4 linked regions of the Homo sapiens genome follow. The protein of the gene in region 3 purifies or fractionates together with the protein of the main gene of each other region. This does not show direct contact. Each region holds a gene or a part of one and is shown on either strand. Other genes may lie near its edges.

The links. The genes of interacting proteins can lie anywhere in the genome.
Region 1: the proteins of C10orf88 (region 3) and WAPL purify together in Homo sapiens (affinity purification with mass spectrometry; one large-scale study listed by BioGRID and IntAct). This does not show direct contact.
Region 2: the proteins of C10orf88 (region 3) and NCKAP1 purify together in Homo sapiens (affinity purification with mass spectrometry; 2 studies listed by BioGRID and IntAct, with this or other methods). This does not show direct contact.
Region 4: the proteins of C10orf88 (region 3) and SNX4 purify together in Homo sapiens (affinity purification with mass spectrometry; one large-scale study listed by BioGRID and IntAct). This does not show direct contact.

The regions. Positions count from the first base shown.
Region 1 is NC_000010.11:86,501,128-86,504,797, forward strand, and holds part of WAPL (wings apart-like protein homolog), read right to left. Parts: intron 1-3,670. UniProt on the Homo sapiens protein: Regulator of sister chromatid cohesion in mitosis which negatively regulates cohesin association with chromatin. Involved in both sister chromatid cohesion during interphase and sister-chromatid resolution during early stages of mitosis.
Region 2 is NC_000002.12:183,028,293-183,031,962, forward strand, and holds part of NCKAP1 (nck-associated protein 1), read right to left. Parts: intron 1-3,670. UniProt on the Homo sapiens protein: Part of the WAVE complex that regulates lamellipodia formation. The WAVE complex regulates actin filament reorganization via its interaction with the Arp2/3 complex. Actin remodeling activity is regulated by RAC1.
Region 3 is NC_000010.11:122,933,759-122,937,341, forward strand, and holds part of C10orf88 (ATPase PAAT), read right to left. Parts: intron 1-3,583. UniProt on the Homo sapiens protein: ATPase that regulates mitochondrial ABC transporters ABCB7, ABCB8/MITOSUR and ABCB10. Regulates mitochondrial ferric concentration and heme biosynthesis and plays a role in the maintenance of mitochondrial homeostasis and cell survival.
Region 4 is NC_000003.12:125,454,038-125,457,707, forward strand, and holds part of SNX4 (sorting nexin-4), read right to left. Parts: intron 3,329-3,670; coding exon 3,229-3,328; intron 1-3,228. UniProt on the Homo sapiens protein: Involved in the regulation of endocytosis and in several stages of intracellular trafficking. Plays a role in recycling endocytosed transferrin receptor and prevent its degradation.

The sequences.
Region 1 (3,670 bases), about 36 Mb from region 3:
GAACAGTTAATAAAAACCTTCTACCAGTGTTTTTATTTATCTGGGATAGGGCTGCCCATAAGGTATGCTAGTTCTATCCAGAAACCTGTCCATAGGATCAGGTTTCTCTAGCTATTTCTGTTCTTTCTTCTAATCCTAAATGCCATATAATCTCAAGGGAATTTTTAGCAGTAGTTCTGGTGTGTTAGTTAAATGGCTAATAGTGGCTATTTATGCATATCAGCCAGTAATAAATCCTCAGCCTGCCTATTCATCTGGTATGTGGAGAATTCATTTTTGTTGCCTTCAATTTTTACTATCAGAACATTTTTACAACCTTTCCAAATGAGATACAAATATGATTCCAACTGGTATTATTAATTCCCTCAACATTTACTTGTAGAAAAACACTGACAAAATGTATACCCTATGCCAAACAATAAAATTACTTCTACAAAATACATCTACATTTAAGAAAAGCTATTTACAAATCTCAATTAGCATCATCAAATACAGGTGAGAGGGATGCTTTACATGGACAGATTCACTGCATAATTTTTAATTCTACCCAATAGGTTTTCCTGCCCTCAAGACAGGATCTCACTGTCACCCACACTGGAATACAGTGGTGTGATCACAGCTCACTGCAGCTTCAGAGACCTCCAGGCCTCAAGTGATCCTCCCACCTCAGCCTCCTGAGCAGCACTCCCAAACAGCTGGAACTACAGGTGTGCACCACCACACCTGCCTAACTCCCCTTTTTATTTAACAGACAGGGTCACACTACGGTGCCTAGGCTGGTCTTGAACTCCTGGGCTCAAGCAAACGTCCTGCCTCTGCCTCCCAAAGTGCTACAATCACAGGCATGAGCCACCACGTCCAGCCTCCAAAGGGTTTTAATGTAATTTAACAGGTTAAGATTTGGTAATATCTTTTAAAACTAAAAATGTACATGTGAAAGAAAGGACTTACTCTTGAAGCCAGCAGTTTCATTTACAAGTATTTAGAAATAACTTTCCACGAACACAAAATTACATAAGTAACAAGAAACTCAATAGAACACTGTTTCCTGGTTTTTGCTTTCATAAACAATATACCAATTAATAAAGAATTAAATTACCATATAGCAACACACCTGAATACTATGCAGTTGTTAAAAAGAATGAGGCAGCTCTACATTATGTACAGATATGGATGCTCTTAGAGATGGAATGACTAAGGGATAAGGAACAAGAAAAGACTTTCATACTTCTTGAATTTTATACTGCATGTAAGTTGTCTATTCAAAAGCCAAAACATAAAAAATGCCAAAATTGTATATTTTTGGAGTCCTTATCTGTTAAAAAAATATATTTATGAATCAAATACAACATCTTGAATTTACTTTAGTGAGGATAAAAATGAAACAAGACTGGCAATGAATTGTTTGTTGAAGATTAAACAGTTGAACTGTTTAATGGAGATGGAGATACAAATAGACATTATTTTTGTAGACATAAACACACAAATGTATACATCTGTGTAACTGTATACTAGTCTATACACACAAATATATACAGACTTCCTTTACCCTCTTATAAGAAAATGAAGATACTTCCTTTGATTTCTTACCAAACCCATCATTACACAGATGAGAAAAAAAGGCCCAGAGGGGCTAATGACTGCAGAGGTTCTCAATTAAATCAATAGTCAAAAGAGACTTCATAAAAAAGACCCATACCAAACTATATTACACTACGTCTAGTGGTGGCTGCTAAACACTAAAATGCTAGGCCAGGCGTGGTGGCTCATGCCTGTAATCCCAGCAGTTTGGGAGGCCAAGGCGGGCGGATCATGAGGTCAGGAGTTCGAGGCCAGCCTGGCCAACATGGTGAAACCCTGTCTCTACTAAAAACACAAAAATTAGCCAGGCGTGGTGGCGGGCGCCTGTAGTCCCAGCTACTCAGGAGGCTGAGGCAGGAGAACTGCTTGAACCCGGGAGGCAGAGGTTGCAGTGAGCCAAGATCATGTCACTGTACTCCAACCTGGGCAAAAGAGCGAGACTCTGTTTAAAAGAACAACAACAACAAAACTAATTCACTGGCTGGGCGCGGGGGCTCACACCTGTAATCCCAGCACTTTGGGAGGCTGAGGTGGAAATAGCAAATGTTTATCTCACGGTGTGCTGAGGACTAAACTTAAACAATGCCTTTAACCTGTAAGAAATCTGTGCAAATGATACAAAGTGGCTTGGAGACCATAACCCATGAAATACAGTTGAGGCAACTAGAAAGGTTTAATTGGTGCAGGGATGGAAGAAAACTGCCATTACATGAAACCTGCCTTTAAATATCTGAATGGCTGTCATGATAAGAAAACAAACTTCGCCGGGTGTGGTGGCTCATGCCTGTAATCCCAGCACTTTGGGAGGCCGAAGCGGGTGGGTCATCAGGTCAGGAGATTGAGACCATCCTGGCTAACACAGTGAAACTCCGTCTCTACTAAAAATACAAAAAAATGAGCCAGGCGTGGTGGCGGGCATCTGTAGTTCCAGCTACCCGGGAGGCTGAGGCAGGAGAATGGCGTGAACCCGGAAGGCGGAGCTTGCAGTGAGCCAAGATCACACCACTGCACCACGGCCTGGGTGACAGAGCAAGACTCCATCTCAAAAAAAAAAAAGAATACACACATGAAAAATGCTTATCATTAGTTGCTAGGGAAACACAAAAGGTAAATTCCTTAATATACCAAGAATCCTTACACATCAGTAAGTCCAATGTCCCAGTAGAAAATGGCGCTAGGGGCCAGGCACAATGGCTCAGGCCTATAATGCCGGCTCTTTGGGAGGCCGAGTCAGGCAGATCACTTGAGGCCAGAAGTTCGAGACCAGTGTGGCCAACATGGTGAAACCCTGTCTCCACTAAAAAGACAAAAAAAACCCAGCCAGGCGTGGTGGCACATGCCAGTCGTCCTCGCTACTTGGGAGGCTGAGGCACAAGAATTGTTTGAACCCAGGAGGCAGAGGTTGTAGTGAGCTGAGATAGCACCACTGCACTCCAGCCTGGGCAACAGAGCAAGACTCTGCCTCAAAAATAAATGAATAAATAATAAGCCAAGAACACAAAGAAGCAATTCATTAAAATATATATCTATAATGAATTAAATAACTTATGAAGGATACTCAATTTCACTCACAATTAAAACTCAAAGTAAAACAAAGCTGAACTATATTTATATAAGCCCTCGGTATGTGCCTGGTAGTATTCTAAATACTTTCTATTAATTTATTTTATCTCAAAGCAACCATCAGGCCAGGTGCGGTGGCTCACGCCTGTAATCCCAGCACTTTGGGAGGCAGAGGTGGGCAGATCACGAGGTCAGGAGATCGAGACCAGACTAGCTAACACGGTGACACCCCATCTCTACTAAAAAATACAAAAAATTAGCCGGGCGTAGTAGCACACACCTGTAGTCCAAGCTACTTGGGAGGCTGAGGCAGAAGAATCGCTTGAACCTGGGAGGCAGAGGTGGCAGTGAGCCCCGTCGACAGAGCGAGACTCAGTCTCAAAAAAAAAAAGAAAAAGGAATAACAGGGACATAGCAGTACGTGCTTATAGTCCCACCTAGAGCTACCCAGGGCACTGTGGCCAGCGGTTCATTTGAGGCTGCTGTTATGATCACACCTGTGTGAGTAGCCACGCACTCCAGCCTG
Region 2 (3,670 bases), on a different chromosome or scaffold from region 3:
CCCTGTTTTACTTTATCTTGAGTCAGCATATTTTCATAAAACATAAAATACTATAATTTCAAATTTCAGAAGATCTAAAATAAATTTAAATATTTATATACTTAAATTTCCAGTTCTCAGAATTGGAACTTTATTCTCCATGAATATTCTAATTATAATATTTTAAAAGTCAGGATTATTTTATGTGACAGATAAAATTACAGTGATGTTAAAGGATACACTTAAACATAGTAATTAAAACCCTTGTCTCTTGGGTCAAGTGCATAATAGCCTATATGACCTTAGGCAAGTTGCCTAACCTCTCAGCCTCAGTTACCTAACCCATAAATTGAGGATATTATTACTACCTACTGCATAGGGTACACTGTTAAAATATTTAAAAGATAAGATACACATAAACTGTTTATTTAGGTGCCTGGCACATATGTAGTTAATAAATAAGTTCCAAATATTTTTTTAAATAAAACTTCTTTATATACATGGATACACATAGTGAGTTCTCAATTATGGAAACAAGATTTTCCATAAAAACAATTCTAGGCTGGGCTCAGTGGCTCACGCCTGTAATCCCAGCACTTTGGGAGGCCGAGGTGGGCAGATCGCGAGGTCAGGAGTTCAAGACCAGCCTAGCCAACACGGTGAAACCCCGTTTCTACTAAAAATACAAAAAAAAAAAAATAGCCAGGTATGGTCTGGCGCCTGTAATCCCAGCTACTCGGGAGGCTGAGGCAGGAGAATCGCTTGAACCCGGAAGGCGCAGGTTGCAGTGAGCCAAGATCGCGCCACTGCACTCCAGCCTGGGCAACAAGAGTGAAACTCTGTCTCAAAAGAAACAAAAAAAAAACTATAGGTCAGTAGTCAATTCAATATCTCTAAGTTCCTTTTAAAACACAAATCTGATGTTATCAGTAAAAATGAAGGACAAGGATGTTTCAGAAAACTACACAATATATTATCCGGGCCACAAAAGAAACATCTTTGATTAGAAACATCAAGCCTAGACCCTATGCCATTTTAAAGTATGACTTTAAAACACATCTTTCTGCCACTCTACCACAAACCCCCATACTGAGGCCTTTCCTCAAGCTATTACAGCATAGGATTACATACCACAGCTTAACTTTACATGGTTAATGTTACTATTTTTCCAAGAACTTACCATGATGCCAAAAAAAAAAAATACAGATTTTTAAAATTCCTCTATCTATTCACAAGAGATTAAGCAACAATCAAGACACCAAAAAAAAAAGACTGCTCAGTAGCTCACACCTGCAATCCCAGCACTTGCGGAGGCCAAGGCAGGAGAATTGCTGGAGCCCACAAGTTTGAGACCACCTTGGGCAAGAGGGAGACCCTGTCTCTACAAAATGTTTAAAAATTAGCCAAACGTGGTGGTAAATATCTGTGGTCCCAGCTACCTGGGAGGCTAAGATGGAAGGACTGCTTGAGCCAGGGAGGTTGAGTCTACAGTGAGCCCTGTTCACAACCACTGCAAACTCCAGCCTAGGCAAGAGTGAGACCCTGACTCGAAAAAAAAAAAAAAAAAAAGAGAGAGAAGGAAAAAAAACAACAAAATAATCAAGATACAAAAGATGTTGGAAGTAAAAAGAACATTTACTGTGCAATTATTGTGTGCAAAACACCTATGCTTTAGAAATTATCTAAATTATCACTCAACAGAAAGGAAAGGAGCTTCTGAAAAATTAAGTAACTTGATCAAGATTTCACAACTACTGACAGGACCTACAGAGAAATTCATACCTGATTCCAAAACACTATCTAAAAATATATGTCCCCTCCCAAAAATAATGTTTAAAAACATGCTCCACTTATTCAAAACCTCCGCTGCTTAAAACCTCAGGAAGCAGTTGCTATCACGGTAAAAATCTGATCAGTTCAATCCATTTTATTTTTTTGAGACAGCATCTTGCTATATTGCCCAGGCTGGACTTGAACTCCTGGTCTCAAGAGATCCTTCTGCCTCAGCCTCCTAAGTACCTGGGATTACAAGCACGCACTACTACTGTGCCTAGCTTCAGTTTTATTTTTTAATTTCTATTCTAACTCAGGAATAAAACACATTCCTTTGCTAAAATATGGAAGAACAATTATTTTCTAGTACAATAATTGGAAAAATGCCAAAATAGGGAAGAACAAAATGATTTTCTAGTACAATGAATTAACTGAAAAAATATGAACAAGATCTCAGGAGTCAGAGTGAGAATGCTATTCGTGAGGGCACAGAAACCAGCCCCATCTGAATAATGTCAAGGATGAGGAGAAAAATACAAAATGTGGCCAATTTAGACTCGAAAGAGGAATTTGACTTAATAACCAAGAAACACCACACGTTTTGCAAAATTGAAGGAATAAAGGGACAAAGATTCTTCCCTGAGTTTTCAACAAATTGAAATTAATACCTAGAGGAAGAATAGACGTTACCTGAAATTATGGAATGTAAAAGTAATATATACCTATGATTATTTTATGTTCCAATTTTTTAAATAATGAAAATATTACAGTATGAAAATTGTCCATAAGTACTGGAAAACTTTATATCAAGAGCAAAATAAGACTCAAATTCATCAGTAGTTAGCTTTCCGATTATTTTTTTCCTCCTGTGTTATGATGTATATTTTGGCCAACCGATCTGCTTTAAGTTAGCACTTTCCCTCTTAGGTAGGTAAAAAGAAAAGAGAGCAATCTACTGCTAGTAACTTGGATTAAGAGGCTTGATAACAAAGTATACTGAAATTATTGGAAATGCTTTCAAATTAATGTAATTTTATCAATAACTACCTCTTAATTGGAGCCAATAATTGAGATCTAAAAATATAGAAATCACAGTTATTGTCCTTTAGACACAAGTTCTGAGAAAGTCATGAACTTGAAAAACTTCAACCCATTATACACTTCAAAATTAGTGATTCAAAAAAAAGAAAAAAATTTAGTGATTCAAATGAGTTATTAATTACCATTCCATTTACAAGAAGATATATATGTCACTGTTGCCTTTAAACAGTTTTCAGCTTCCAATATACAGGATCATCTCAGTTTATGAAGCAAAGGTGTTTTTGCAGTTTTTTAAAGTATATATATTGTCATACCTTTGCGGTTAAAAAGAAATTGTTATTTAAAGGACTACTGTGGAACACATACTTCTGAAATACAAATAATTATTCTGTCTTAGCAGTAAGTAGATGTCAAACTGTATCAGGCAGTAAAATAGAATAGTGAGGAATGTTTCCTAAAAGGTAGTCTTGAGCTTAATTTAATCTGGGGGTGGGGGGGAATGAACATTTATTAAGTGTCCACTATGTTCCAAGCCCCAGAAATAGAACTAGTAACAACAGCCACCATTTCCTCAGCTCTTACGCTTGCTACAAGGCACTGTACCAATACTTCCTATGGATTCACTCATTTAATTCTCCTCTTAACCTATGAGGTTAATAAAAGCGTATTCCAAAAACGTGAGATAACTGGAATATCTATTTAAGATTACAAGAGTTAGAATCAATAAGACTAGCAAGGCTTAGAAAGCCAAAAAATACAGCTTGAAGCATAACAGAAGCTGAGAGCAAATAAGTACCATGGAGCTGGTTTTGCTAGTAGACAGCCAATGTGCAGCCTTCCAGAAATTTAGTTATAACCCAGACAACTAAATTAAATC
Region 3 (3,583 bases):
GCTCTTACTAGCTATATTTCACTATACATGCTATAATTCAATATACATGATAATGCAGCCAAAAGCTATTATGTATAGATTCATGTACATTTAAAATAATACTATTCTCAATAAAATTTTAAAAGAAAATCTGGCTTTTTTTCATAAAGACTGTTATTTATGTTAATATACAGTGGGTTTATTGTTATTTTTAAACAAATATTTTTATGTAGCCTACATAAGTTTATTGGAGTCCTCAATTAAGAGTGTAAAGACCAAAAGTCTGAGAGCCACTACTCTAGAATACACCAAAGACAGTTTTTAAGAAACTCTGTATTTTGAAATAATTATGGATTCACAGGAAGTTGCAAAGATATTAGTTTCTCAGTGCCCTTTATCCAATCCTCCCAATGGTCACATCTTATCTACCTATAATCCAATATCAAAACCAGGAAATTGATATTAATATGATGTGTGTGTATAGTTCTATGCCATTTTATCATATGTACACATATTTATTTAAACACCACCATAATCAAAAGGCAGAACCATTCTTTAACTGCAATGATCTCCTCCCTGCTACCCCTCTATTGTCATACCTACTCCCCTAAAGTCTTCTTTCCCTAATACCTGGTAACCATCAATATGTTGTTCATCTCTACAGTTTTATTATTTTGAAAATATTATAAAGTGAGATCATACAGTATGTGACCTTTTGAGATTCTCTTTTGTCACTCAGCAAAATGCCTTTGAGAGATGTCCAAGTTGTTTTTTACTGCTCATCAGCACTGCGTGATATGGAGGTACCATAGTTTAACCATTCACCTATTGCTAAGACATTTTAGTTGGGACTTCTGGGATATTACAAAGAAAGCTTTTATTAATAACTGTGTACAAGTTTCTGTGTGGACCTGAGCTTTCATTTCTCTGGGATGTCCAGGAGTATAATTGCTGGGTTGTACGGTAACTGTATGTTTAGTTTTTAAGATATTGCCAAAATATTTTTTAGAGTGACTGTACCATTTTATATTCCTACCAACAATGTATGAGAGATCCAGTTCCCAAACATCTTTGTCAGCATTTGGTATTGTTACCATTTTTAAATTTTAGCCATCCAAATATGTAGTGATATATTGTGGTTTTAATATGCATTTCCCTAATAGTCACTAAGTCAATGTTGATCAACTTTCCTTGTGCTTATTTGCTATTTGTATATCCTGTCTGTTGAAATGACTATTCTTTTGCCCATGGTTTAAATTGGATTGTTAGGTTTTATTTTTATTTGCTTTTAACATAGAGTTTTGAGAGTTCTTTATGTACTTCAGAGACAGGTCATTTGCTGGATTTGTAATTTGCAAAGAATTTCTCCCAGTCTGTATTTTAATTCCCCTAACAGTGTCTTTCATAAACAAAAGTTTTACATTTTGATGGGGCCCAATAAATCAGTTTTTTATTTTATGGATCACGCTTTTGATGTCATATCTGAGAACTCATTTCCTAGTCCTAGGTCCCTAGAGTTTCTCCTGTAGAAAAGCTTTATAGTTTTATATTTTACATTTTAATCTATAAGTAATTTTGTGTTAATTTTTGCATAAAGTATAAGATTTAAGTCACAATTCATTTTTTGCCTGTGGATATCCAACTGTTCCAGCACAGGTTAAAAAGACAATTCTACCTGTATTGAATTATTTTTGCATTGTCAAACGTCAGTTGGTGTACTTGTGCAGAGTTATTTCTGTGCTATCCATCTATAAGTCTATGCCTCTGACAATAACACAGTCTTGAATACTGTGGCTATGTCTTGAAATCAAGTAGTGATTTCTCTTACACTTTTTCAAAATTTTTTATAGTTCCTTTATTTTTCCATTTTAAAAAATTCTCCATTTCTAAATTTTAGAATCATCTCATTCATATTTATAAAAAATCATGCTCGATTTTTCATAGGAATTACATTAAATTTATATATCAACTAGGAGAGAATTGACGTTTTTACTATGCTGTGTCTTCAAATCCATGAATATGGTATGTCTCTCCAGTTTTTAGGGCTTTTCTTTTCCTTTGTCAGTATTTTATAATTTTCATTTCACATATCCTTATATATTTTGTTAGGTTTATAAATTTTTTCATATATTTTATAAGTATTTTTTATAGATTTACATATTTTACATATATTTACATGCATTTTTGTGTATTTTAATTTTGGGGGGCAATCTAGTTTGGTGTCAGGCTAATACTGACTTCACAGAATGAGTTGGAACATCTTCCCTCCTCTTCTAGTTTTTAAAAGCATGTAAAATTGATGTTCTTTAAATGTTCAGTGGAAACCTTCAGTGTAGCCATCTGGGCCTGGATATTTCTTTTTCATGAGCTTTCCAATCATTAATCAAATATTTTTAGTGGTTATAGGACTATTTTATTACTTATTTCATGTTGGCTGAGTTTGGTTGGTAGTTTGTGGTTTTGGGGAAATTAATCCATTTCTCCTAAGTTGTCAAATTTATGAGCATAAATTTGTTTGTAATATTCCCTCCCTTGTTATCTTTTAACGGCCTTAGGATCAGTAGTGACATCTCATTACATTCCGGATACTGATGATTGCATCTTCTTTTTATCTTTTGATAGTCTTGTTTGAAGTGTATCAATTTTATTGAAATTTTCAAAGAACTGGCTTTTGGCTTCATTGATTTTGTTTGCTTGTTTTCAGTTACACTGATTTCTGTTATTATTTCCTTCTTTCTGCTTGCTTTAAGATCAGTTTGCTTGGCTTTAAAATTGTAAATTCAATTTCTTTAATGGTTATAGGACTATTCAGATTATTTTATTTTGGTTGAGCTGTAGCTTTACGCTACTGATTTAAGAACAATCCTCTTTTCTAATGTAATCATTTAGTGCTATAAATATCCTTATCAATACTTCTTTAACTGCATCCCACAAATTTTGATGTGTTGTATTTTCATTCATTTCTGTGTAATAGGTTTAATTTCTGTCAAGACTTTTTCTTGAACCATAAATTTAAGAATGCTGTGTAATTCCCAAAAATCTGGAAATTTTGTTGTCTTTTATTGGTTTCTAGTTAGATTCATTTATGGTCAGAAAACACACATTGTATTATTTCAATCCTCTTGAATTTGGTCAGATTTGCTTTGTGACTCAAGATATAATCTATCTTTGCAAATCTTCCATAGATGCTTGAAAAAAGTGTATATTCTGCTATTGTTGGTAGAGTTCTCTATAAATGTCAACTCAATCCTGTTGGTTGGTGGTGGCGTTTAGTTACAAAATCATCCAACTACCTCATTTTCAAATAAAATCTCTTAGGCTAAAGAATACTAAACAGTGTGGCAACATGTTTAAGCCAAAACCACACCTAGAGTCCTGAATTCTAGTCTAGAACACCATTTTGACATACTATATCTACTTAAGCAATTAGGAACATAATACTTAGCTATCTCTTAATCAAATATGTACTGCCAAAATAAGGGATTAAGAGACTGGGGATAATAGCTTGTAAACTACAAGTGATTATTATCCTAATATAGTTTTTTAATAATCAGGAATTTGCCTAGACCAAACATAATCTTCAAGGAAAATGTCACAATGACAT
Region 4 (3,670 bases), on a different chromosome or scaffold from region 3:
AAAAGGAATCAAATCTGATATATGCTACAACATGGATAAACCTGCAGGACATTATGCTAAGTGAAATAAGACAGATACAAAAAGACAAATACTGTATGATTCCACTTATATGAGACACCAGTGTTTACACTGTATTAGGTATTAATAATCTAGAGATAATTTAAAGCAGGGGGTCCCCAACCCCAGAGCCACGGAGTGATACCAGTCCATGGCCTGTTTGGAACCAGGCTGCATAGCAGGAGGCAAGCGACCACCTGAGCTCTGCCTCCTGTCAGATCAGCAGCAGAGGCATTAGATTCTCTTAGGAGCACGAACCCTATTGTGAACTGCGCATGTGAGGGATCCAGGTTGTGTGTTCCTTGTGAAAATCTAATGCCTGAGATGATCTGAAATGAAACAGTTTCATCCCGAAATCATCCTCAGCACCCCCTGCCCTGGTCCATGGAAAAACTGTCTTCCACAAAACAGGTCCCTAGTGCCAAAAAGGTTGGCGACTGCTGATTTAAAGTATACAAAAGGATATGCACAGGTTACATGCAAATACTACACCATTTTATAGAAGGGACTTAAGCATCTGAGGATTTTGGTATCCCAGGGATCCTTAAACCAATCTCACTGAAGATACTGAGGGATGACTGCACTACTGAACTATATACTTAAAAATGGACAAGATGGTACATTTTATGTTATATATATTTCACTACACACACAAAGGAAATAGAAAACATTTGCCATATTTCCCCTAAGTCAGACAAAACCACCATAAGCTTCACAACCAGGGATCTCTTATATGAGTTTTTATTTATTTTTACAGAGTCATAGCCAAGAATCCTAATAGAATTTCTAACACTGAAATAATATGGAGTAGTCAAAAAGAAGACACTTCTAACTGAATTTCTTTTTTTTTTTGAAATGGGGTCTTGCTCTGTTGCCCAGGCTAGAATGTAATGGCACAATCATGGCTCACTGCAGCCTCAACCTCCTGGGCTCAAGTGATCCTCCCACCTCTGCCTCCCAAGTGGCTGGGACCACAGGTGCATGCCACCACACCCAGCTAATTTTTAAATTTTTGGTAAAGACAGGGTCTAGCTATATTAATCCACACTGGTCTCAAATTCCTGGGCTCAAGCAATTCTGGGTTTACGCCTCTGCTGCTAAAGGTGTCGGGATTGCCATTGTAAGCTACCATACCCGGCTTGAATTTCATAATCAAATGGAAAACTTCCACGTGAAATATTAGACGTTATTTCTTACTCTGTATGAATGATATTTTAAAAATTACTTTATGTTATAAAAAAAGTCGATAAATTCACTAGGCAACTATGGAAATAAACCAAACTAAAGAAGCATATTTAAAATCTGCATAACTCAACGCTCAAACTTGGGCATCTATTAATAAAACAGGATACCTAAATCCAAGCATGGGAAGGCAACCCCAAGCTTCACTGCTTTAACATTTCCTCACTCTCTGGAGTTTACTGAAGAAAACACTTTTCCCTTGACATGTAGGATAGAGAACCAAGCTCCCTGAAAATGGCCTGGGAACTTCTCCCACTGAGTTTTAAAAATAAACCAAGGGCCTAGTTTATACATGTGTCCTGGTCACAAGTCTTTCCCCACATATATCTGTGACTTTTCACAGATGTAGCCAGTGGGTAATCTCTGTGAAAAGCACTTTTAAAACTATAGTGCTTGGCCAGGCGCGCTGGCTCATGCCTATAATCCCAGCACTTTGGGTGGCCGAGGCGGGCGGATCACGAGGTCAGGAGATTCAGACCATCTTGGCTAACATGGTGAAACCCCGTCTGTACTAAAAGTGCAAAAAAAAAATTGGTCGGGCGTGGTGGCAGGCGCCTGTAGTCCCAGCTATTCAGGAGGCTGAGGCAGGAGAATGGTGTGAACCCAGGAGGTGGAGCTTGCAGTGAGCCACACTCTAACCTGGGCAACAGAGCGAAACTCGGTCTAAAAACAAACAAACAAACAAACAAAAACTACAGTGCTTATTAACTAAGTAGAGACATTGCTGCTGGTTTACTACTTTCAGAATGTGTGTTGCTCACCATGATGGCTGATTTATTGCAATGAAATAACTGGAGTAGAAAGCTGATTATAAAAATGATCCAAGACTAATGCAATCAGGTACAGAATTTTCCTCACAAGTACTCACTGTAAGCATTAAAGAATAAAGTACATCAAAAGCTCCCTGTTAGGCGAGATGCACTGGTTCTAAGTGGGTAAGGCTTTTCAAAGTCAACTAAAATTTCTGCAAAGTACCTTGCAAAGTTAAACCTGATAAAGGTCACTGCATGTTTTTTCACTTGGACTTAGAAACCAGATGATAGACTAGGCATGGTGGCTTACCCCTGTAATCCTAGCACTTTGGGAGGCGGAGGTGGGAGGATCACTTGAGTCCAGGAGTTTGAGACCACCCTGGTCAACATGATGAGACTATAAACAAAATTAGCCAGGCATGGGGGCACATGCCTGTGGTCCCAACTACTCAAGAGGCTGAGGCAGGAAGACCACTTGATCCCAGGAGTTTGAGGCTTCCATGAGCCCTGATCATACCACTGCACTCCAGCCTGGGAAACAGAACCAGACCTTGTCTCAAAAAATAAAAATTAATAAAAACAATTTTTTTGAGATGGAGTCTTGCTCTGTCACCCAGGCTGGAGTGCAGTGGCGTGACCTCGGGTCACTGCAACCTCCGATTCCCTGGTTCAAGCAATTCTTCTGCCTCACCTTCCCGAGTAGCTGGGACTACAGGCGTGAGGCACCACACCTGGCTAATTTTTGTATTTCTAGTAGAGATCGGGTTTCACCATGTTGGCCAGGCTAATCTCGAACTCCTGACCTCAGGTGATCCACTGGCCTTGGCCTCCCAAAGTGCTGGGATTACAGGTGTGAGCCACCGTGCCCAGCCCAATAATTTTTTTTTTTTTTAAAACGAAACCGGATGATACTGATTACACCAGAGAAATGTTGGCAAAATTTCTTATAATTCTATACAGTACATGGTTTTAATGGCTTACATCATTTTGTATCAAGATAATAATAAAAGAATTATAAAGTTACTCACAAATTATTCCCCTGTAAAAGGTTCAGCCGTCCTGAGTATTGTAACTGGAACTGATTCTACAGGAGTGAGTTACTCACTCAGAGTGAGTGCTTGTGAGGAACATTCCGTGTTGCTACAGTATCATCAGAGGCCAAAAGGAAAATACTCACCCCAGTTACCAGTTCCTCACACTGCTGCTTCTTGGATGCTAAGTCCTGAGCAGCCATCTCCAAGTCATACTGCATAAGTTCATGTTTCCTGCACACAGCCCTACAGATGAAAAAATGTGCTGCCATTTAACTTTTCCTTTAACATGTCAAACATTTTTTTCAAGGGTAGAGGAGAACCATTCACAATGTCTCGCTAGGGCAGAATGTGTGTGCCCAGAATTTTCAAGTTTAAAATGTAGTAGCCCAACATTAAAAATGGAATCTAATGGAATCTAGCAGAACCTAACCATAAAAACTTCATATATTCTTTTTTTTTTTTTTTTTTTTTTGAGACAGAGTTTTGCTCTTGTTGCCCAGGCTGGAGTGCAATGGCGCGATCTCGGCTCACTGCAACCTCCGCCTCCCGGGTTCAAATGATTCTCCTGCCTCAGCTTCCCTAGTA